7 linked regions of the Homo sapiens genome follow. The protein of the gene in region 5 interacts with the protein of the main gene of each other region in a pairwise test. Each region holds a gene or a part of one and is shown on either strand. Other genes may lie near its edges.

Region 1 (3,500 bases), on a different chromosome or scaffold from region 5:
AGGATGACTGAGATGGCTGGGAGGAAGAGCTGCACGCCTCAGCAGAAAGCACACGTGGTGAGAACAAGAAGGGAAAGCCACAGCATCCCGGTGCAGTCCAGTGTGGTCTGTGGACTGGGCATGTTGGAATAGGCAGGAAGGGCTGATGTGCGCTTTGAGGGAGGACCGGGCAGCTGGAGAGGGAGGCGTCAGGAAGCAGGAGGGCAGAAGGTGAGGAGTGAAGGGCAGCAGTGGAAAGGACAGGGTTACGCCAAGCAGTGGTCATGGATATGGGCAGTAAGGAACATGCACCAAGGGCGCCTGGAAAACGAACCTTAGAGAACGCAAGTCCTGCGGAGGACTCCTGGGTTCCTGGCTGGGACACCGCCTGGGCAGGGAAGGCAGAGAAGATGGAGAACCTGGTCTCAGGTGGCATCAGAACCCAGCATCCGCATCACCAGGATTGCAGGAGCAGCAGCGTCTCAGGCCCTGGGTGTGTCAGAGCCCCCAGGCCACGTGGAAGTATGAGACGTGCTGGGCTGCAGGGGAAACAATGGAAATGAGGTTGGAGGCCCGAGAAGACCCACTGCAGGAAAAGGGTGGAGTGGGGGAAAAGCAGGCTGGGGGCAGTGGCTGGCCTGCAACAAAAGCATTGTAGAATGCAGGCGTGAGCCACCGCGCCCGGCCAAGGCGGGCAGATCATGAGGTCAGGAGATCGCGACCATCCTGGCTAATGCGGTGAAACCCCGTCTCTTCTAAAAAAAAAAAAAAAAAAAAAACTGTAGAAAGGGGAAAGCAGTCCAAAGAGAAGTATTTCTTCCAAGAGACTCATCAGCACACTGTGTTTCCAGAGATGTCTTTCTGTTAACAGCATTCTTAGACTCAAAAGTAAATGTAGATATACTTTAAAAAACAAAAACACCTTGCTAAGAGATGAATTTTTAGAAACTTGTTGGACAAAGAAAAGTCATTGATAGTCAACTGCTGTGAGAGGCAAGCCAGGAAATGATGATTAATACCCTCAAATTATAATAAAACCCATGCCTCATTAGGGGCTCGCCCAGGAGTACTGACTTGTGGATAGACACCGTCTGGGGAAAACTCTGTCGCCTGTGTCAGGCTGATGCTCTTACATTTTATAGCCCCTTGTAGGATAGTGCATGTTGAGAAGAAGCCGCTTCACATCATCGTGGTGCAGGATCTGTGGTGTGGTGTGCTTCATGTGTGTGTTTTGTGTGTGTAGTGTGTATGTAGTGTAGTGTTAGTTGTGTGTACTATGGTGTGTGTGTGGCATGTATGTAGTTTGTGTGTGGTGTGTGTGCAGTGTGTGTGATGTGTGTAGTGTGCATGTAGTGATGTGGTGTGGTTTGTGTGTGTTTTTATGTGTAGTGTGTAGTATGTGTGTTGCATGTAGTGTGTTGTGTGTCGTGTGTATGTAGTTTGTGTGTGTGGTGTGTTTGCAGTGTGTGTGGGTGTGTACTGTGTTATGTGTGTAATGTGTATGTAGTTTGTGTGCTGCACGTAGTGTGTTGTGTGTACTGTGTATGTAGTTTGTGTATACTGTGTGTAGTATGTGTGCAGTGTGTGTGTAGTTTGTGTATGACGTGTGCAGTGTGTGTAAGATGTGTGTAGTGTGTTGTGTGTGTAGTGTGTATGTAGTTTGTGTGTGTGTGGTGTGCGTTTAGTGCATGTGTGGTATGTGTCCATATGTGTGGCATGCATGTAGTGGGCATGTAGTATGGGGGTGTATGTGTGTGGTGTAGTGTGTGTGATGTGTGTAGTGTGCATGTAGTTGTGTGGTGTGTTTCGTGTGTGTTTTGTGTGTGTAGTGTGTATGTAGTGTAGCATGTGTTTAGTATGGTGTGTGGTGTGTATGTAGTTTGTGTGTGATATGTGTGTAGTATGTGTGATGTGTGTAGTGTGTACTGTGTGTGGTGTGTATGTATTTTGTGTGTGTGGTGTATGTGATGTGTGTAGTACATGGTGTGTGTAGTGTGTTATGTGTGTAGTGTGTTGTATGTGGTGTGTATGTAGTTTGTGTGTTGTGTGTGCAGTGTGTTATGTGTGTTGTGTGTGTAGTGTGTATGTAGTCTGTGGTGTGTGTGATGTGGGTAGTGTCCGTGTAGTACATGGTGTGTGTAGTGTGTGTGGTGTGTGTAGTGTGTTGTATGTGGAGTGTATGTAGTTTTTGTGTGTTGTGTGTGCAGTGTGTGATATGTGTAGTGTGTTGTGTGTGTGGTGTACGTGTAGTTGGTGTGTGTGATGTGTGTAGTGTCCATGTAGTACATGGTGTGTGTAGTGTGTGTAGTGTGTTGTATGTGGTATGTATGTAATTTGTGTTGTGTGTGCAGTGTGTGTTGTTTGTAGTGTGTTGTGTGTGTGGTGTGTATGTAGTTTGTGTGTGTGGTGTGTGTGTGATGTGCATAGTGTGCGTGTAGTGCATGGTGTGTGTGTAGTGCAGCTGTGGCATGTGTTCGTAGTGTGTGTGGCATGCATGTAGTGTCCATGTGGTATGGAGTGTGTGTGTGTGGTGTAGTGTATGTGATGTGTGTGGTGTGTGGTGTACCGTATGTGATGTGTGTAGTGCGCATGTAGTCATGTGGTGTGTTTCATGTGTGTTTTGTGTGTATGTAACGTAGAATTTGGTGTGTGCGGTGTGTTTCATGTGTGTGGTGTGTATGTAGTTTGTGTGTATGTGTATGTGTGTGGGGTAGTGTGTGTGATGTGTGTTGTGTGCATGCAGTGGTGTGTTTCATGTCTGTTTTGTGTGTGTAGCATGTATGTAGTGTAGCATGTGATGTGTGTAGTGTGTTTCGTGTGTGTGGTATGTATGTAGTTTGTGTGTTTGGTGTGTGTGATGTGCATAGTGTGCATGTAGTACATGGTGTGTGTGTAGTGCAGGTGTGGCATGTGTTCATAGTGTGTGTGGCATGCATGTAGTGTGCATGTGGTATGGAGAGAGTGTGTGTGTGTGTGTGTGTGTGTGTGTGTGTGTGTGTGTACCATGAGGGACATGCGCTTTGCTCCCTGGATAAATGGATGGAGTCATGTAGATAATTTTCCATTCACGACCAGCCCCTTTTGGTTAAAATGTGCCTCCTTGGATACTTTTGGGGCTGGCAATATGTATCCTTCTAGTTTACAACCATGATTGAGAGGGAATACTCTCCATGTTAAATATGCATTGGCCGCCTTTCTTTTTGCTTCTGAAATGTATTTATTTACTGCAAGCAGTGTCTCTCCTGTGTCAGATGTCCTCGTGGGCTGGGAACCGGCACTATCTCTTTAGCACGGGCCCTGCAGATGGGAAGTGGCGTTGCCCAGGAAGTGGTCTGGAGAAGCGGGGAGAAGACAGCCTATGGGCCCCAGGCCTCGGGAGCCAGGGAGGGTGTCACTCTTCATGTCTCAGGCAGTGGCTTGTTGCTATCATAGCCCCGGGCTGGAGGTGGGAAGGCCTTATGGTGACCACAAGTCACAGTTCCGTGTGGGCCCTCAACGTGGCCTCACTTCACCTCTGGGGC
Region 2 (3,500 bases), on a different chromosome or scaffold from region 5:
GACAACACACACACCAAATAGGCAGATGAACAGGATAAGTGCTGAATTCATTTAATAGGAAGTTAAACCAAGAATGAGGTGGATCTTCACGTTAAGGGGTAATATGGTGCTTTTAAAGGACAATCTGAGGCCAGGTGTGGTGGGTCACGCCTATAATCTCAACACTTTTGGAGGCCAGGACAGGAGGACCGGTTTTGTCTAGGGGTTCAAGTCTAGATGGGGCAAAATAGTGAGACCCCGCCGCTACAAAACATTGAAAAATTAGCCAGGTATGGTGATGTGTGTCTGTAGTCCCAGCTACTCAGGAGGCTGAGGTGGAAGGATTGCTTGAGCCAAGGAGTTGGAGGTTGCAGTGAACTGTGACTGCACCACTGAGTGCAGTGGCACGATAAAGGACAAGCTCAAAGCCTAGAACTAGTCATGTTCTCCAAGCATTCATCTTACTCTCCTTGCTTTTCTTAGTATCTGGAGCTGCCCCGTCCAATGCAGTGACCATCAGCCACTAGCCACATGTGCCTATTTTAAATTAACTAAAAATTCAGCTTCTAACACAGTAGCCACATTTCAAGTGCTCAATAGCTACATACAAATAGTGCCTACTGTATGAGACAGCACAGATGCAGGCCATTTCCATCACAGTAGAAAGTGCTATCAGACAACATTGTTCTAGAGAACTGAACTTTTTTTTTTTTTCATTTAAAGACAGTCTTGCTCTGTCATTCAGACTGGAGAACAGTGACAAGAACATGGCTCACTGCAGTCTTGACCTTCTAGGCTCAAGTGATCCTCCTGCCACAGCCTCCTGTGTAGCTGGGAGCACAGGGATGCACCACCACACCTGACTAATGTTCTTGATTTTTCTGTAATTGGCTGGGGGAGAGGGTCTCATTATGTTGCCCAAGCTGGTCTTGCACTCCTGGGCTCAAGCGATCCTCCTGCCTAGGCCTCCCAAAGTGCTGGGATTACAGGCATAAGCCACTGCACCTGACCCGAGAATTGATCACTTCTGAGGAATAGATTTTAGTTTTAAAAAAGGATCTGGAGCCATTAACAAAATCTTTTTAAAAAGGCCAGGTGCAGTGGCTCACGCCTGTAATCCCAGCACTTTGGGAGGCCAAGGCGGGCGGATCATGAGGTCAGGAGATCGAGATCATCCTGGCTAACTCGGTGAAACCCTGTCTCTACTAAAAATACAAAAAGAAATTAGCCGGGCGTGGTGGCAGGCGCCTGTAGTCCCAGCTACTCGGGAGGCTGAGGCAGGAGAATGGCGTGAACCCAGGAGGCGGAGCTTGCAGTGAGTCGAGATGGTGCCACTGCACTCCAGCCTGGCAGACAGAGTAAGACTCCATCTCAAAAAAAAAAAACAAAAACAAAAAACAAAACAAAACGAATAAGTATATATAAAATCATTGTCAAATACAAGATTAAAAGAGGCACACATGAATGCCTTTTACCTACCTGCAAGAACCACTTTTAGAAATGTTTAAGACTGTTCCACCTATACAGTCATTGATCTCTCTTGATAAATTCTTGGACAGAAGGTTTACAGATACTGGAACTCTACAAAATAAACACACAGGCATTCAGAACACAATGCATACACACCTAGAAGCTTCATGCTGCTAAAGTCCAGTCATTACTAAGAAACTTACTTCTTTCTTTGATAGAAATGTCTCCCAATGAGTGAGGGTAAGAGCCGCCTAATTCTGGCATCAGTAAGGAAGAAATCAAAACTGCTCAGAAGGCGGAGCTTGGCTTCATAGGATTTATATTCCTTCTTTAGAGTTTGGAGGGAGATAATCTAGGAAGTATAGAGAAGAATAAAAACAAGAAGTTAGGAATCTAAACAAGGAGAAGAAATACTTAGGCAACAATTTGGATTTGGATTTAAAAATGTCCTAGAGCCATGCCTCTATACTTTAATGAACACTTGAGGGCCTAAAATGTGCCAGGCACTACGCTACATGCTGGGAACACTGAGACAAATGAGAAAAGACCCCAGCTAAAGCAACTTAGATCTAGGTGGGCAACATATATATATTATTATACATATGTTGCTGTATGTGCTTACGCCTGTAATACTAGCCCTTTGGGAGGCCGAGGTGGGTGGATCACCTGAGCTCAGGAATTCAAGACCAGCCTGGCCAACATGGTGAAACCTCGTCTCTATAAAAATATAAAAATTAGCCGGGCATGATGGCAGGTGCCTGTAATCCCAGCTATTCGGTAGGCTGAGGTGGGAGAATAGCTTGAACCTGGGAGGTGGAGGTTGCAGTGAGCCGAGGTCCTGCCATTGAATTCCAGCCTGGGCGACAGAGCGAGACTCCAAACAAACAAAAAAACTTAGATACCTTAGATCCAGAGGGTAATAAAGACAAGTACACCAACTACAAAACAGCAAATCAGAGAAAAACAAGATGCTGTGGAAGTACAGAGGAATGACACGAGCCACCTCTTTTATAATTTGCAAGATATAAAAGCTACTGATGTACACGCCACCACAAATTAAATTAAAAAGAGAAAAGTAGAAGAAAAATACTAGGAAATATAGCAATGTATTTGTGATACCATTTCGCCTGAATTAAATCCTCTAAATAACTTGAAAATATTAACCAGGCTTCCTACCTGAGAAACGGTTTTAATTCCATGCTTGTTTAAAAGCTTTCTATAAAACTGTTCTGTCTTTTCAGGAGTTGAATTGGGTTCATCCTTCGTAAATAAACAGATATCTTCTGAATCTGATCGAATACTATGAGGCAAGGTCCTACAAAATACGTGAAAAGAAACCGAGGAAAGCATTATTACACACATTATGCATGTTTGTATCACACAGAATACGCGATAAACTTAGTGTTATTTAAATAACTTTTAGTCATGCTAGTTAAGCAAATAATGCACCAAGAACAACACTTAAAAATACATTTCATGGCCGGTAGTAGTGGCTCAAGCCTGTAATCCCACACTTTAGGGAGGCCAAGGCAGATGGATCACCTGAGGTCAGGAGTTCAAGACCAGCCTGGCCAACATGGTGAAACCCTGTTTCTACTAAAATTATAAAAAATTAGCCAGGCACGGTGGTAGGTGCCTGTAATCCCAGCTACTTGAGAGTCTGAGGCAGGATAATCGCTTCAACCCGGAAGGTGGAGGTTGCAGTGAGCCAAGATCGCACCACTGGACTCCAGCCTGGGTAACAAGAGGCAAACTCCGTCTCAAAACACAAAAACAAAAAACAAAACTCACTTTCAATGGCAAGTAAATCACAAAAACACACAGGCCCAAATATCAATTAACACTTGGGATACAACAAGAATTAAAATATACTTAAAGACTTCCAAATGCTTGCATATATAATTATTATACATATGTTGCTGTATGTGCACACGTACTGTAATGCGCTATAAAAACCTAGCTTAATCAGGACAAGCCTGGTTCAGAATTTTACCTTCTTTAAAACTCTTAGCTCCATAAACATAATAACTCTTTCTTCTTTTCCTTTTTTT
Region 3 (3,500 bases), on a different chromosome or scaffold from region 5:
AGTACCATTTATGTATATTTTCTTTGGTTGCTTATGCTTTTGGTGTCATCTGAGAAACTGTTGCCTGCCTAACCTAAGTTCACAAAGATTTATGCCTATCTTTCCTTCCAAGAGTTTTATAGTTTCAGCTCTTACATTTAGATCATTGATCTGTTGTGAGTTAATTTTTATAAATGATATGAAGTAGAACTCCAACTTCATCCTCTTGCATGTGGATATCCAGTTGTCCAAGCACCATTTGTTGAAAAGAGTATTCTTTCTCCATCGAATGGTCTTGGAACCCTTGTTGAAAATCAGTTGACCATAGATATATATAGGTTTATTTCTAAAGTTTTATCCTAAGTTTGATTCTTAGTTTTGCCACTTAGAAACAAGTGTGACCTTGAACAAGTTACTTTTTTTTTTTTTGAGACGGAGCCTCGCTCTGTTGCCAGGCTGGAGTGCAATGACACGATCTCGGCTCAAGCAACCTCCGCCTCCCGGGTTCAAGCAATTCCCCTGCCTTAGCCTCCCGAGTAGCTGGGACTACAGGCATGCGCCACTACGCCTGCTAATTTTTTGTATTTTAGTAGAGACGGGGTTTCACCATGTTGGCCAGGATGGTCTCGATCTCCTGACCTTGTGATCCGCCTGCCTCAACCTCTCAAAGTGTTGGGATTATAGGCGTGAGCCACCACGCCCAGCCTACTTTTTTTTTTTTTTAAATAATGATAATACCTACCTTTTAGAGAGTTGTTGTGAAAAGTAAATGAGGCAATGCGCATAAAGGGTATTGTTCAGGTGCTTAGATAACCAGAAAGGTAGGGGAAATGGGGGATAATTGAAAGGATTCTAAAATATTAGGAGTACCCAGAACAAGAAAGCCTCATAAATTAGAGATGATTGAACACGTCTGAAGAAGTTGATAAAAGTATTCAGTACCCGAAAATTGGCTAAAACAGTTAATATATGATAATTAAAAATCAAACAGATTCGAAACAGTCTAGAAAAGCTAAAATAAGCAAGAGGCAGTAACTATCTTAAAATATTCTTTACAGAGCTGAAATAAGTTAAGGTAGGTTATTTTAGAGTACTAATGATTGGGTTTTTTTCTTTCAAAGACTCTTGAGAATCTTTTGAAAGCTATGGGCAACCCTTTCCCCAGGAAAAATGCATATATGACATACAAACACATTCTGCAAACAGTTCTAGGAAGTTCAGAAGTCCCCGGTTAATAAATCCTATTTTGACCTTACCCAAAGCAATCCTGACCCATAGCGTGCTTTCCCAAGCTTAATTTCATAATGAGGTTCAAGTGTCACACTGACTTGGAAATAAATTTTAGATTTCCAAACAAAATTTAAGAGCTTTTCCTCTGTACAGGACAATTTATATGGCACCCTCTTAAGCCTTAGGAAAGCTGTGGTACTCTAATTGTTGTTATATAGTTTTCAGCATACATAGACATGGCTTTCAGCAATACATGTGACCAACCCAGGTAGCTTCCAACACAGACATTGAGGAATGCAGGCATACAGTTCTAGAAGAGATAGTAATAGAAGTGCAGTGTGAGGTGGAGATGGGCCTAGAAGACAGAGATATGATTCTGGAAGGAACTCAGAATGAAATAGGCAGATTCAGAGAAAGTAAGAGAGACAGAGAGAGATAAAAATAGACGTAGAAACATGCTGTTTAAAAAAAAAAAACTCTATAAACTATGTTAAATATACCAAAGTAAAGATTTCCAGAATTCAAAAAAAAAAAAAACTGTCTTGTAAATGGTCCAGATAAACCTCAGTGAAGGAGGTGAGATGATTGAAATAAAGGTAAGGGAAAAGAGCACAGGCATTGGAATTATACTGACCTGTGCTCTGGGTATGTATGTTTTTGGTTGATTTATTTAATGATTCTAAGCCCTAGTTTCCTAACTGTAAGGTGGATACAGTAATAGTAACTTCCTCACAAGTTTCCTGAAAGAATTAGTGAAATAATGTGTAAAGTGCTTAACATAGTACTCAGAATACAGGAGATGCTCAATGAATGCTAGACCCCTTCTTACTCCTAGTTTAAGTGATACTTCATTAACAATTATTGAATACAGTTTGTGTGAAGCACAAACTTGTGCTGTGAATGAAAATATAAAATAGTTGATACTCTCAAGGAGAAGGAAGAGTTAGCTGGAAATACAGCTATGTAAGTGAAATAAAACAGAATGTTCTGGAAGCCACCAGTGGTTGAGGTGATAAAAACATGTAGATGAGAGATCTCTTAGATTTCTAGGCTTGGATGGTGATATTCACCAGACAGGGAAAATCAGAAGAGGAGCAGGTGTTTTTTGTTTGTTTTGTTTTGTGGAGGTGAGGAGGAGCACAACAAGTTCATTTATAGACATGTTGAGTTTGAGAATCTGAGTAATATATCAAATGGAGCTCTCTAAGGCAATATTCCTGCTGTCAGTGGAAGTTGGAATCTTCATCTCTCAAAAGTCTCTTCCAATTCTAAGATTCAATGATGTATGTACATTTTAATTGTTTACTTTTTCATCTGTATGGGTGAACGTTGATAGATGTTATAAGCTACAAAATACTGGCCAACAACTTTCAAGCACCTGTAAATTCTAAAAGAAAAATACCTTGTCTCACTTAAAAAAACTGGCTGTACAAACATCTGAATCTACTAAACCAACTGAGTGACTGATTTACAAAAAGATTCTTCACTTTTATAACCTCATTTCATATAGATTTTCATTAAATAGGTAGTTAGTTCAGTGCATTTAAAAGGTTTGATTTAGAAACAGCTTTTAGGTGTACATCTATTGTACTTAGGCATAAAGTATAATTGTACTCAGTACTTATGTATCCTGTGACAATATCTGAACAAATACCAATGGCAGAGCAAAATTTTCAAGCTCTGATGAGAGTCTCCAATGATGACAAGATAATAAACAAAAGCTACTCAAAAGCAAACAATGCTTTTCTTGGGCTTGGCTCTGTGGCTCACTCCTGTAATCCCAGCACTTTGGGAGGCTGTGGTGGGCAGATTGCTTGAGCCCAGGAGTTCAAGATCAGCCTGGGCAACATGGCAAAACCACGTCTCTACAAAAAATATAAACAAAAATTAGCTGGGCTTGGTGGCATACCCCTGGAGTTCCAGGAGGCGGAGCCCAGGAGGCTGAAGCAGGAGGATCGCTTGAGCCCAGGAGGTGGACGTTGCAGTTAGCCAAGATTGTACCACTGCACTCCACCCTGAATGACAGAGGGACACCTTGTTAAAAAAAAAAGCAAGAAAGATGCCCTTTTTCTTTCCTATACATAGGATTAACATTTTCAGTCAGTAAGATATGTTTTATATTTTTCCTTAGTTAAAGACAACTTAGAATATTTATGTGTGTGTATTTTAATTAATGGAAGACTCTAGGCAATTAAGAATTAGGTACCTGTGTGTTCAGCACAGAAATGCCTGTGGAAAAATAGATAGAGTTACCAAGAGGTTGGTTTCTTGTCAGTTGGGTGGCTTTTTTT
Region 4 (2,767 bases), on a different chromosome or scaffold from region 5:
TGTGAGCACTTGACTATGAAGGACACTGATGGGACAACTGGCAACTTGAACGGGGTCTGTGGGTTAGATGGTAATATACCAGTGTTAATTTCCTGGTTTTGATCACTGTGTTGTGGTTAAGTAAAAGAATGTCCTTGTTTGTAGAAATTACACACTGAAGCCTTTAAGATCATGAGACAGCACTGGCTCCATGGTTCAGGGAAAAAGGTTCTTTGTACTTTAACTTTTCCTGTAAGTTTGGAATTATTTCAAAATTTAAAAATTCAAAATAGAATCATAAAAGTAATATTTTTCATAATAAACAAGGGTAGCCTTTGTTAAAAAATCAGAAAAGCTGATATCAAAGTTCATTCTCTTATGTGGACTTAAAAATCAAAGAATAATTAGCTCCAAAAGAAAAGATTTGCCAAGTAAGATGTTTTTCTCTTACAAAATGGAAATTTAACTTCTAAATTTACTTCACATAACTTGCAAATGTAACCGGTTTTCTTACTTGGACATTTTTCATTTTACCAACTTTATTTTCTTTTGACTTTTCCAGGTATTCAGAGTTGATGTTTTTCCTAAAATAAACCACAGACTATATTTGGGACTATATAAGAGATACTAAGAAGTACAAAGGGCTCTTTCTCTTAAGTGTTATGAAAAAGACTTTGAATTTAAATAAAGCTTACAAAGAAATCATAAAACTAATTTTAAAATGCTTTTATGTAGGCAAAAGGGAAACTATAGTACTCTCACTACTTAATATTTCCAGTTCTGCCTAAAACAAAGACATACATTAATTTTTAACAATCTTTGTCTCAAAATTCTAGGAACATTTGGAAGAAGTATTTAAAGCTAATGCTTACTCTTTGCGTGAAATTTTATATAATCTCAGGAATAGAAATTTAAGAAATAGAAATCTTCTCATTTCAGTTTGCTAAGCACATTCTTCATTCTTACATATTACAGGTCCACTAGATTCAAAGGTAAGCCAAAAATACCATGCAAAAGACTGCCTCCTAAATTATTTAAATCTCTTTTGTAGCAAAATTTTCCCAGAAACTGAGGAACATCCACACAGAAATTCTTACCTTTTTATCAAAAGTTTGTTATCCTTTTCTCATTTTCTGGGCCTTTCAATGCATTGGCATTGACAAGAGTGAAAAAATTATTTGCTGTTATTTGCATATCAAACACATGGTTTCAACGTGGTATGAAACTATGTTGGTTCCAACGTGGCTGACTCCTTTGTGTCCATTAAAACCATTTTCCTCATATCTAAAGTGAATCTTGGTATCTGTGATTTATGTTTAATATAGAGATGGGAAATGGTTAGTAATCTAATACTAGTCAAGTCACATGTATTCTTAAAAAAAGCTCAAATAGTTGAATTAGGGTGATGGAAATTATACTCAAATCTGAAATTGTAATGAGGCTCCTTTCTGAAACTTAAATGACCCATTCATTTTTTTTAGGTTTAGCTTAATGTTTTTCCTCTTCATAATACCAACTGAGGTTTAACTTAATAACAAATGGTAACTATATAAGATTGTATTAAATAGTCTTGGGCTATTTTTTGGTAAGCTCTTTGATTTGGTAACTACATTCCAAAAGTTAATTATCAGTTACATGAGTTTAAATGGCATCCATAGCTGCCCCTTCACACAAACAGGTGCTCAGTAATAGGGCTTATTAGAAAGACCCTAGAAACCAAGAAACTTCAGTTCTAGTCCTCAATATAGAAGTAGCTAACAATTTTGGATAAGTCATTTAACTTCTAGTCTTTGGTTTCCATATTTATAAAATGGAGACAATATCCTATCTACTTTAATAAGGTATTATTAAAATGTTTATAATTGGATAATATATTGAAGCATTCTGAAATAATACCAGTTCGTCTTTGTTTAGCAATCTCAATTTTTCAAATTCTTAACCCTGGGATTGAAGTTATTAAAGGCACTTGTTTCTCCTTATTTAAAAGATTTATGAAAGGCTCCTACCATGGCATGCCTTGGCTCCTACGGTTTTACTTTCCCTCCACAGGAAACCTATATTGACAATTTTAGATTGTCAAAATTCTTTCTTAATGAAAGTATTAATGAGAATTATTTCATTATTCATAGTTTGGTTAAGATTTATGACAAATCACAGCCAAAAGAACTTCATTGGTAATAGCTTGTTTGAGGCTTCCTGGGGAAAATAATGATGTCAGATTTGCATTTGCAATCTTAGACTATTATAGGATATTATGCTGCATAAATCTAGATATAACTTTTATTCAGATAATTTACAAAAATTAGAACATGATTTTAAAGGTGGTATATCTCTTGTGGAGGGAAATCTTGCTGAAATTACAGCTTCTTAGGTTAACAGAGAATGTGTCCTGTTTGTGCACCTCTCTAAATGAAAGAATTAAGGAGAATTATTTCATTATTCATAGTTTGGTTTGTGGGGGTGAAAGAGGGAATGAGAAAAATCCTAAGACATCCTTGGAACAATTTAACACAAAATATACACATATATAGATCCTGAGATGTTACAACAAATTAACAATTATATAGATCAACATGATCCAAATAGTTTTCAAGACACCGTTATGGTGGGTAAACAGCCATTTTACGGCATGTGCTCCATGGATGTCCACATCATGCCAGGAAAACCATACTCTTTGTCTCCAAATTTGAAAGCTAGTCATCCAGAGCAGGTGGCCAGTCAACATCTACAGACTAGAAGGGAGAAAAGAAGTCATTAAAACAGATATTACTGTTGTGGTAAGCATTTG
Region 5 (3,500 bases):
GTTCCAGCTTTTGTTTGTTTAATTTCATCTTTCGCAGACAGAGGTTTCCTTGCAGCATTACCTGGTTGGGCTTCAGCATTATCATTTGAACTTTAGAAGGAATTATTACTTCAATAGAAGATTGTTTTACAGTGCTACAATGTAGTATTGTGACTGTCGCAGGCATGCACAAATCTGTCCAGATACTTAACTTATTTTCATGTAGATCAAATAATTGTCGTTGATTTTGATCCTGAGAGGCAGATAATTCAGCATTTTTTAAAAAGATAATGGTATCACAGCAACATTTGGATACTACAGTGCTATGGAGAATACCACCATTATAGTGGCTGGTGAACTCTACCATTATGTAGGGCTGCACTTTTCCCCCACGTGTACAAGGCTACCGCGTAGAGCAGGTGAAGCTATGTGGGTCCACAACAATGTAGTTTTTAGTAGATGTCAAGAGGTATCTAAGCTCAAATCACAGTGTAGTAACTATATTATAGTTCCTTTCATTTTTAAAACATTTCTGTCCCTTTGTGATTTCATGCTTTGCATTCTGTACATATTCTTTCCAAATCACTCCTCAGAACCTGCCCCAAGATGGAGCTACTGTGTTATTGTTCCCTTAACATTTACTTATTCCATTCACATGTGACTATTCTTGTTATTAGTGGGAGGAAGGGGCTGCATAGTGTACTATAAGCAGTTGTGGTACCTAAGCTCCCAGACACAGGTGAATCCTCCATTCATTGGTTAAGCTCCAGTTTTATTCTTGGCTCACCTATATTTTGTGATACCAAAATATTAAGTTCTATATATCCTCCTCCTCTTCATCCTGTCTGTTTCTCATCTCTCCAAATTTTCAGAGTTAACATATTTTATTTCTGCTTAGTCAAACGAATACATATTTCCAACTAATATTCCTATCTATTAAGGACTAGCCTTGCCCCATCCTCATTTTACATTTGTCATCTTTTTTCTTTCTCTGTGAAAAGACCATGTGTGCATAACTGCATCCATTTTCATGATCAATACATCTGACCATACACTTTACATGGTGTTTTGTAATTTTTAAAAAATGCAGTACTAGGTATTGGACATATATTTTCATGTCTGTTTTTACCATGCAAAATAATCTTAGAATGTTGATATATTTCTGGGAGGAACCAGAATAAAAGATGAAGAGATGGAAATGGTCAATTCCTATTCCTAGATAACTTTTATAGTTACCTTTCAGCGTGGGTTATTTAGAAAGCAGTGGTAATACTACTTCTGTAGGAAACATTGTATCCTCCATAGACTTGACGGAAATATGCACTTGGTTTGAATTAGTAGAAGTAGAACATGCCAAGTCCATAAATTTACAGAGTGAGATTGTTGTTTAAAAGATTGGTTTCTATTACTGTTATCTTTGAGATTATATTAAGAAATTTGTTCTCTGTTGCAGGATAGTTTCACATATCATAATTGAATAAGACTAATGTTTCATTAGAACCATTTATTCCCTATTATTAATAGGGAAATTTTATTTTAATGTCCATGCCATCCTCTTCTGATTCTTCTCATGGTTTTCAAAGTAAGTAATTTAATTTGGTATAATACTTCCAGGATCTCAAAGCAAATCTGTATTTTAATCTCTCAGGTGTTCACTAGTATTACCAGTGACTAGTGGAAATAATAAAAGGAAATCTTGTTCATAAAATCCAACAGAATGATTTTTTTCCTCCCTGCAAAATCTTCTCGTTAAAGCTGAAACATAAGACCTCATAAAATTCAATTTCTACTGAGTGATATTCCAATTAAGAGTACTAATTCATATTATATTAATCAAATTAGTATTTGTTCCTCTTCTGCTAAAATGTGATCGAGAAATTCATGCGTATCAGTTCACCAGCACCATTCGTTCCCTACTGAGATAATAAATGATGGGAAAGTATTTTTTGGTTCATTTCATGCTGCTTCCCTAGATCTGCTTACTGCAAAGGCAAACTTACCTGAATACTTTTGTTGAGATTTTCAGCCAGCCATTCTTTGCTGTCAGTGTGGGGATCAGAATGAGTAGGGGAGCAAACTTACCTGAATACTGTTGTTGAGATTTTCAGCCAGCCATTCTTTGCTGTCAGTGTGGGGATCAGAATGAGTAGGGGAGCAAACTTACCTGAATACTGTTGTTGAGATTTTCAGCCAGCCATTCTTTGCTGTCAGTGTGGGGATCAGAATGAGTAGGGGAGCAAACTTACCTGAATACTGTTGTTGAGATTTTCAGCCAGCCATTCTTTGCTGTCAGTGTGTGGATCAGAGTGAGTAGGGGAGCAAACTTACCTGAATACTGTTGTTGAGATTTTCAGCCAGCCATCCTTTGCTGTCAGTGTGTGGATCAGAATGAGTAGGGGAGCAAACTTACCTGAATACTGTTGTTGAGATTTTCAGCCAGCCATCCTTTGCTGTCAGTGTAGGGAACAGAGTGAGTAGGGGAGCAAACTTACCTGAATACTGTTGTTGAGATTTTCAGCCAGCCATCCTTTGCTGTCAGTGTGTGGATCAGAGTGAGTAGGGGAGCAAACTTACCTGAATACTGTTGTTGAGATTTTCAGCCAGCCATCCTTTGCTGTCAGTGTGTGGATCAGAGTGAGTAGGGGAGCAAACTTACCTGCATACTGTTGTTGAGATTTTCAGCCAGCCATCCTTTGCTGTCAGTGTGTGGATCAGAGTGAGTAGGGGAGCAAACTTACCTGAATACTGTTGTTGAGATTTTCAGCCAGCCATCCTTTGCTGTCAGTGTGTGGATCAGAGTGAGTAGGGGAGCAAACTTACCTGAATACTGTTGTTGAGATTTTCAGCCAGCCATCCTTTGCTGTCAGTGTGTGGATCAGAGTGAGTAGGGGAGCAAACTTACCTGAATACTGTTGTTGAGATTTTCAGCCAGCCATCCTTTGCTGTCAGTGTGGGGATCAGAGTGAGTAGGGTTTTTTTTTCTGAGTGTGAACAGCACACCCTACCTAAGGCCACTTAAGAGACACTGGAGTCAGAATCTCTGGAGAAAGGATCTGATACAGTGCTATCTTAAAGAGATCTTCAGATAATTCTGAGGTTAAGCAGCATGGCTCTAGGCTGTATTTATAAAACAGAAATTATGCTGGAGAGAAGAGCGTTGTCCGAGTTACTATTTTACTTATATTACTCTTGTCTTATCCAAGAAGTATCTGAAGTCCTTACAATATAGCACACCCAGATTTCTTTAAAAAATAAGGAAACACTAGTGAAGATTGGAATGAAGTGTATTGCGTAAGGTTTTATAAATTTCTCTAGAGGAAGCAGGCAGAGTTGGCTCTGGAACTTCTCTACACTGTCTACAAGTTAAAAATAAGCTGATGTTCCAGGAGAGTACGGTTGGATCCTGAGAGTAAGACCTGGTAGAATAAACAGTATCGTCAGTGTTCTCAGATTCCTTGAAAGCAGGAACTAGGTGATATTCTTTTTTTTTTTTCTGAGACAGTTTCACTTTGTTGCCCAGG
Region 6 (3,500 bases), on a different chromosome or scaffold from region 5:
TGAAGCGGGCGTATCACCCAAGGTCAGGAGTTTGAGACCAGTCTGGACAACCAACACGGTGAAACCCTGTCTCTACTAAAAAAAAATACAAAAATTAGCTGGGCGTGGTGGTGTGTACCTGTAATCCTAGCTACTCGGGAGGCTGAGGTGGGAGAATCGCTTGAACCCGGGAGGTGGAGGTTGCAGTGAGTTGAGATGGCGACACTGCACTCCAGCCTGGGTGACAAAGCAAGACTGCTTCTCGGACAAAAAAAAAAAACAAAAACAACACACACACACACACAGAACAGCCTGGATGACTCTCCAGAGAATTATGCTGAGTGAAAAAAGCCAGTCCCAAAAGATTATATGCTGTATGATTTCATTTATAGAACATTCTTCGAATGACAAAATATAAAATGGAGAAAATATTAGTGGTTACCAGGGTTAATGAGGGGGTTGGGGTGGGACAGAAGTCCATATAAGCTAATAAAAGGGATCCTTATAGAGATGAAAATGTTGTGTATCCTGACTGTATCAGTGTTAACATCTTGGTTGTGATATTGTACTATCATCATGTAAGATACTACACAGGGGGAAGCTGGGTAAAGGGTATCTGGGATCTCTGTATTATTATTCGTTGTTTTTTTTTTAACTGCACATGAATCTACAATTACTTCAAAATAGAAAGTTTAATTTTAAAAAGAAAACCTGTGACTATTAGCCAAAAACAAACAGACAAAAACAAACAAAAATTAAGTTGCCACAGATTAATAAAATTGCCTATTTTTACCTCTTGGGGCGTCGTGCACTGAAAACCCACTGGACAAGCTTTATGTAACTTTTCAATTCTACACAGAACTGAATGAAATAAAATATGAGAGAGCTCTTATATATATATAGTCTTTTCGCAAATGTTAATTTTTTGTATCATTATTCTATTTAAGTAGTATACGCTGAAGAAAGTATGTACGTCTTAGACTGTAGTCTAAACCCTAAAACTCTAATACCTTTAAGTAAGCTTTAAAACTTCTCAAATGCCCTACTTACTGTTAAATCTAGTCCTTGGTTTTGGAAATGTTACCAAATAGACTACACTAACACTATTAACATAAAGATAAATAATGACATCTAGAGGAGAATAGATGTAACTTCTACAGCCGAATGTATTGGATCAAAAAAATCCATGTAAATTGTATAGTAAACACAAACCTAGTTTATTTCCAGATCTCCCCTACCTAACCCCCACTCCAAGAAAGTTGTGCACATAAGAGATCACTACCTGATGATTTATACTTTCAGTGCATTAAATATAGTAACAAAGAGAAGTGAAAGGCTTTTATCTGGTATGTAAAGTAAATTTCTGCTTTTCCAGCAAACTCAAGTATTACCTTCCCACTTCAAAAAATAAATCAGCTTCCATGCCTCAATTTTTAAGTGTAAAACAGGGATAAGTATATACTTTTTTTTTTTGGCAGGGGTGAGATGTGAAATTTGTCTACTTAAAACTTTTGACTTACAAAGCATCTTGAAAGGCAAAGTAAAATGTAAAATTTTTAATTTAAGCAATCAAAGATGAATGGAAATCACATTTAGCCCTCTGAAACAGAATATTGGTCAAAAGTATTTTTTTTTTTTTTGAGATGGAGTTTCGCTTTGTTGCCCAGGCTGGAGTGCAATGGCGCAATCTCGGCTCACTGCAATCTCCGCCTCTCCGGTTCAAGCGATTCTCCTGCCTCAGCCTCCCAAGTAGCTGGGATTACAGGCATGTGCCACCATGCCCAGCTAATCTTGTATTTTTAGTAGAGATGGGGTTTCACCATGTTGGTCAGGCTGGTCTCAAACTCCTCAGATGATCCGCCCGCCTTGGCCTCCCAAAGTGCTGGGATTACAGGTGTGAGCCACCGCGCCCGGCAGGTCAAAAGATTTTTAATACTTTGGAAGGACATTAAATAAACTAGACTTTTATAGTGACAGATTCAATGAAGTTATTGATGATATGAAGGGCTCAATGAAACACACTAACTGGGATGTTGTTACATGTTTGAAAAAGTGAACTAACATACTTACAAATGAAATATATAGTGTATTTGGGTCTTCGGAGCTCCTGAATAATATAATCCACATTCTCCTAGAAAATGAAGAACAAGCAAACAAAATATGAGGAGAGTTGCTTAAGGAAAAAAGTAATAAGCATTCACCCATTGATTTGTTTATTTACTGCGTCTACTGCATATTGAAGTCTAGGTTAAGTGTGCTTATGTTGGTGGGTAAGGGCTGGAGACAAAAGAGATAAATTAAATACAATGATCGGGAATCATATATTATTTAATAATATGTGTATAATATTAAATATTAACCAGCTGCATTTTGGCCAATTAAGATAAAGAATATAAAGGACACAGATGTTGAAACACAACATAAAATTGATTATAATTCTGCAAACTCACATCAAGCTGCTTGTCTATAAATTGTATTCATTTGCTCAAAATTCTTTTTTTTTTTTTTTGAGATTAAGTCTCACTCTGTTGCCCAGGCTGGAGTGCAATGGCACAATCTTGGCTCACTGTAACCTCCGTCTCCTGGGTTCAAGCAATTCTCCTGTCTCAGCCTCCCAAGTAGCTGAGATTACAGGTTTGTGCCACCATACCCAGCTAATTTTTTGTAATTGTAGCAGAGACGGGGTTTCACCATGTTGGCCAGGCTGGTCTCGAACTCCTGACCTCAACTGATCCACCTGGCTTGGCCTCCCAAAGTGTTAGGATTACAGGCATGAGCCACTGCGCCTGGCCTGATCAAAATTCCTATATAGAGCATTAAATGTGTCTATTCCTTTAAAAATTAACATGCAAGAGAAAATAAAGTTAATTATATTCACTTTGGCTTTTAACTTATTGGGATGTAAGACTCTGCACAACTACAATGTTTGTGAAGTATTTGCAAGTAGCAGGCTAAGATCTTTTCTACAATTACATTGTTTTAAAATAAAGTATGAAAGTTTAAAACAAAAAAGTTGATTTTTATATGGTCAAAATATAAGATTCCAATTACATAAGATTATAATGCAGGTTTTATTGGTTTTTGATACTATAACACCTGGTTAAATTTCAATATAAATTGTTCCCTAAACATATTAATTTGTTTTAAAAATCACATTTCTTTACAGAATTAAAAAAAAGTAAGCAATATATACTGCTTATTAATGGGGAAAGGGTTTTAAAAATTGTAATTTAGATTTAAAAATGCAATTTAGATTTCAAATTAACTTTATAATATAATCTTAAGGCAAAAAATTTAAATAATAAATCTTTTAAACCTCAATTACTTCCTCGTAATATGCTAGGCAAAAATAACAAAGTGAATTAAAAGATTCTTAAAAGTTCAGACAATGTGGAAAAAGACAAAAGAGAATATATAAAAGAGGAAAAAGAAAAAGGAAAGATTCTTTTTTAAAAATTATTTTTAATTTTTATTTTATTATTATTTTTTGAGACGGAGTCTTGCTCTGTCGCCAGGCTGGA
Region 7 (3,500 bases), on a different chromosome or scaffold from region 5:
GGTCGTGCACTGCCACCTGTGGACACCCTGACAGCCTGATGTGATGGGGGGTGGCCCGCTTACCTGAACCTTCCGATCCGCCGTAGGTGTGAGAACATCTCCCCGCCGGGCACGTACTCCATGACCATGTATAAGTTTGAGTTGTCCTGTGGGAAGCAGTGGCTGGTCAAGGGCCCACCCCTGAGACTTGGACCCGATCTGAAGGCCTTGGGGGCCTCCCCGGCTGGTGTTCAAACATTAAATGACAACAGCGATCCTGGCTCCCTGTAGGAATCATGTTCTACAGGGGCGACCCTTATCCTGCTGTTAATGGGTGAAAGTGAGGGCTGGCTCAGAGGTATGTCAGGACCTGGTTAGCCTGCCTTGGCTGGAGAGAGAACTCTGTAGTACCTTGCTCTGGGAGCTTGAGTAAGGCTCTGAGGCCACAGTTTTGTCATCTGTAAAATGGGATCATGATAGGCTGCAGAATTAGTGGGGCCCAGAATAAAAAAGATGGCCCCTGGTTAAAAAATTATTACAGAGGGTCGGGTGTGGTGGCTCATGCCTGTATAATCCCAGTACTTTGGGAGGCCAAGGTGGGTGGATCACTTGAGCCTAGGAGTTTGAGACCAGCCTGGGCAACATAGTGAGACCCCGTCTCTGCAAAAATACAAAAATTAGCTGGGCATCATGGCGTGCACCTGTAGTCTCATACTCAGGAGACTGAGGTGGGAGGATTGCTTGAGCCTGGGAGGCAAAGGTTGTGAGCTGTAATTGCGCCACTGCACTCCAGCCTGGGCAACAGGGTAAGACCTTATCTTAAACAAAACAAAACAAAATGGCCGGGCACGGCTCACACCTGCAATCCCAGCACTTTGGGAGGTCGAGGCAGGCAGATCACCTGAGGTCAGGAGTTCAAGACCAGCCTGACCAACATGGGGAAACCCTGTCTCTACTAAAAAATACAAAATTAGCCAGATGTGATGGCACATGCCTGTAATCCCAGCTACTCGGGAGGCTGAGGCAGAAGAATTGCTTGAACCCAGGAGTCAGAGGTTGTGGTGAGCTGAGATCGCATCATTGCACTCCAGCCTGGGCAACAACAGCCAAACTCTGTCTCAATAAAAAAAATAAAAATTAGGCTTGGCACAGTGGCTCATGCCTGTAATCCCAGCACTTTGGGAGGCCAAGGCAGGCAGATCACTTGAGGTCAGGAGTTCAAGACCAGCCTGAGCAACATGGCAAAATCCTGTCTCTACTAAAAATACAAACATAAGCTGGGCATGGTGGTGGGCACCTGTAATCCCCGCTACTCAGGAGGCTGAGGCAGGAGAATTGCTTGAACCCAGGAGGCAGAGGTTGTAGTGAGCCAAGATTGCGCCACTGCTCTCCAGCCTGAGCAACAGAGTGAGACTCTGTCTCAACAAAAAAAAATTATTACGGATCTCAAGACAGCAGCAGCAGCAAAGCGTTAAACCAGGTGTGGGGTCCCTCGGAGAACAGGCCCTTGTGCTTCTCTGGGTCAAACGTCCATGAAGCTGGCCCTGAGTGGCCTTTCCTGTTTCTCATGACCACAGCTTTGGATGGCACCCAAAACGGCTCCCAAAGGGCGCTCAAGACGTGCCTGGAACTGTCATGACAACCCCACCAGGCTGGAACTGGTATGATCCCCATTTTACCATGAGAAAGCTGAGGCTTGGGGAGATAAGTCTCTTGCCCGGGGCCACACATCAAGAAGTACTGAACTGGGAAATGAACCCCGGCTGCCTGGGGCAGAGTTTGTGCTCCTGGGTCAGGCTCTTACCATAAACCAGGTGCTGCTTTTGAGGGATGTTACTGAGGTTGGGTGACTCACCAAGGGTATCGAACTACAAACTGGCTGGACCAGGAACTGAACTTGGGTCTACCAGAGTCCCAGCCTGACTCCTGTCCCCTGATCTCCCTCCTCCAGGGATCTTGTTCTTCCACAAAAGAGAGCAGCCACTGATTGTCCTCAGCTCCGACCCCAGCCCTGGGGGCCAGAAGGCTGGGACCCAATGCAGTGACCCCCCGCCCTTGGCCACTGGGACCCCACCTTGAAGGAGAACTCGAGTTTGACGAGGAACGGAAAGTTGACAGCTTGCAGGATGCGCTTTTCATTCAGGGTGTGTTCGATCTGTTTCAGTTTCACCACCTGGGAAGGGAAGGAGGGGAGGGCAGAAAGGAGGGGGAGGTGAGAGGGGCCTCATTTCCCCTAATGCCTGGAACTAGGGATGCCGGAGCCAGGCCGGTTCCTTCAGCCAGAATCATTTGTGTGCCTGTGGCCTGTCGGGCCCTTAGCTGATGCTGAGGACACAGCATCAGGGAGGCTAGGGGCTGCTTGTCCTTGCACGGCACTAAGTCCAGGGCAAAGAATACATGGGTTACCCCCACAGAGGTCAGAGCCGTGGTGGAGGGTATCTTGGGGTTGTGGAGAAGCAGCCCCCAAGAAGCCCATGTAAAGTACCTGGCGTGGTCTGGGGAAGGGGGAATCAGACAGCGCTTTCTGGAGGAAGGGGCAGCTGAACTGAAATTGAAAAGACAGGCAGGAGAAGCCCAAGAGGTGGGGGGTTTAGGACCTGCCTTACCCTTGTCTAGAACACTCCACACAGCAACCTGAACCTCAGGCTAACAGCTCCTCAGCCATCAGCTGTCCCCTAATAGCAGATGCCATGAGCAGGCACCTGGCACCCAGTCTCTCACTGAATCAGGATAGAAGCCCTAGAGGCCCATGCTGGGAGTACGCCAGTTTGGAAGACCAGACACAGAGGGGAGGTGACTTGTCCAAGGTCACACAGCTGGCTGATGTCAGGCTGGTGTGTAACATGTGGCCAGCCTGGTCCCTCAGTCAGCTGTCAACTGCTTTGCTCACATAGCTGTGTCCTCAGAGTCTATACCTGCCCTACCCAGTTCAGTCCCCATTAGCCACAGGGGGATGCTGGGCCCTTGAAATATGGCTGGTCGGATGGGGAGCCAAATTCAAAAATTTTAAGTATCTAAAATATAAATTAAAAAACTGACACCAGCTGGGCATGGTGGCTCACGCCCGTAATCCCAGCACTTTGGGAGGCCCAGGCAGGTAAATCGCTTGAGCCCAGGAGTTTGAGACTAGCCTGGGCAATGTAGCGAGACCCCATCTCTACAAACAACAACAAGGACAACAAAAGCAATTAGCTGGGCATGGCACGACTATGGTCCCAGCAGCTCCAGAGGCTGAGGTGGGAGGATCATTTGAGCCCAACTGCACTTCAGCCTGGGCAACAGAGCAAGACCCTGTCTCAAAAACAAAACAACCAGGCCGGGTACGGTGGCTCACGCCTGTAATCCCAGCACTTTGAGAGGCCGAGGCAGGTGGATCACGAGGTCAGGAGATCGAGACCATCCTGGCTAACATGGTGAAACCCCGTCTCTACTAAAAACACAAAAAATTAGCCGGGTGTGGTGGCGGGCGCCTGTAGTCCCTGCTACTCGGGAGGCTGAGGCAGGAGAATGGCATGAACCCG

What was found.
Region 1: the proteins of USP25 (region 5) and SYK interact in binary tests that used the Homo sapiens proteins (3 or more experiments, as listed by UniProt).
Region 2: the proteins of USP25 (region 5) and RSL1D1 interact in a two-hybrid assay, tested with the Homo sapiens proteins (one large-scale study listed by BioGRID and IntAct).
Region 3: the proteins of USP25 (region 5) and MID2 interact in binary tests that used the Homo sapiens proteins (3 or more experiments, as listed by UniProt).
Region 4: the proteins of USP25 (region 5) and PUS10 interact in binary tests that used the Homo sapiens proteins (3 or more experiments, as listed by UniProt).
Region 6: the proteins of USP25 (region 5) and VPS45 interact in a two-hybrid assay, tested with the Homo sapiens proteins (one large-scale study listed by BioGRID and IntAct).
Region 7: the proteins of USP25 (region 5) and PRKACA interact in binary tests that used the Homo sapiens proteins (3 or more experiments, as listed by UniProt).

Annotation. Positions count from the first base shown.
Region 1 is NC_000009.12:90,839,819-90,843,318, forward strand, and holds part of SYK (tyrosine-protein kinase SYK), read left to right. Parts: intron 1-3,500. UniProt on the Homo sapiens protein: Non-receptor tyrosine kinase which mediates signal transduction downstream of a variety of transmembrane receptors including classical immunoreceptors like the B-cell receptor (BCR).
Region 2 is NC_000016.10:11,845,043-11,848,542, forward strand, and holds part of RSL1D1 (ribosomal L1 domain-containing protein 1), read right to left. Parts: intron 2,765-3,500; coding exon 2,626-2,764; intron 1,802-2,625; coding exon 1,653-1,801; intron 1,561-1,652; coding exon 1,459-1,560; intron 1-1,458. UniProt on the Homo sapiens protein: Regulates cellular senescence through inhibition of PTEN translation. Acts as a pro-apoptotic regulator in response to DNA damage.
Region 3 is NC_000023.11:107,835,866-107,839,365, forward strand, and holds part of MID2 (probable E3 ubiquitin-protein ligase MID2), read left to right. Parts: intron 1-3,500. UniProt on the Homo sapiens protein: E3 ubiquitin ligase that plays a role in microtubule stabilization. Mediates the 'Lys-48'-linked polyubiquitination of LRRK2 to drive its localization to microtubules and its proteasomal degradation in neurons.
Region 4 is NC_000002.12:60,939,723-60,942,489, forward strand, and holds the end of PUS10 (tRNA pseudouridine synthase Pus10), read right to left. Parts: intron 2,712-2,767; coding exon 2,673-2,711; 3' UTR 501-2,672; downstream 1-500. UniProt on the Homo sapiens protein: Protein with different functions depending on its subcellular location: involved in miRNA processing in the nucleus and acts as a tRNA pseudouridylate synthase in the cytoplasm.
Region 5 is NC_000021.9:15,834,482-15,837,981, forward strand, and holds part of USP25 (ubiquitin carboxyl-terminal hydrolase 25), read left to right. Parts: intron 1-3,500. UniProt on the Homo sapiens protein: Deubiquitinating enzyme that hydrolyzes ubiquitin moieties conjugated to substrates and thus, functions in various biological processes including inflammation and immune response.
Region 6 is NC_000001.11:150,070,776-150,074,275, reverse strand, and holds part of VPS45 (vacuolar protein sorting-associated protein 45), read right to left. Parts: intron 2,111-3,500; coding exon 2,050-2,110; intron 1-2,049. UniProt on the Homo sapiens protein: May play a role in vesicle-mediated protein trafficking from the Golgi stack through the trans-Golgi network.
Region 7 is NC_000019.10:14,100,763-14,104,262, forward strand, and holds part of PRKACA (cAMP-dependent protein kinase catalytic subunit alpha), read right to left. Parts: intron 2,153-3,500; coding exon 2,054-2,152; intron 147-2,053; coding exon 64-146; intron 1-63.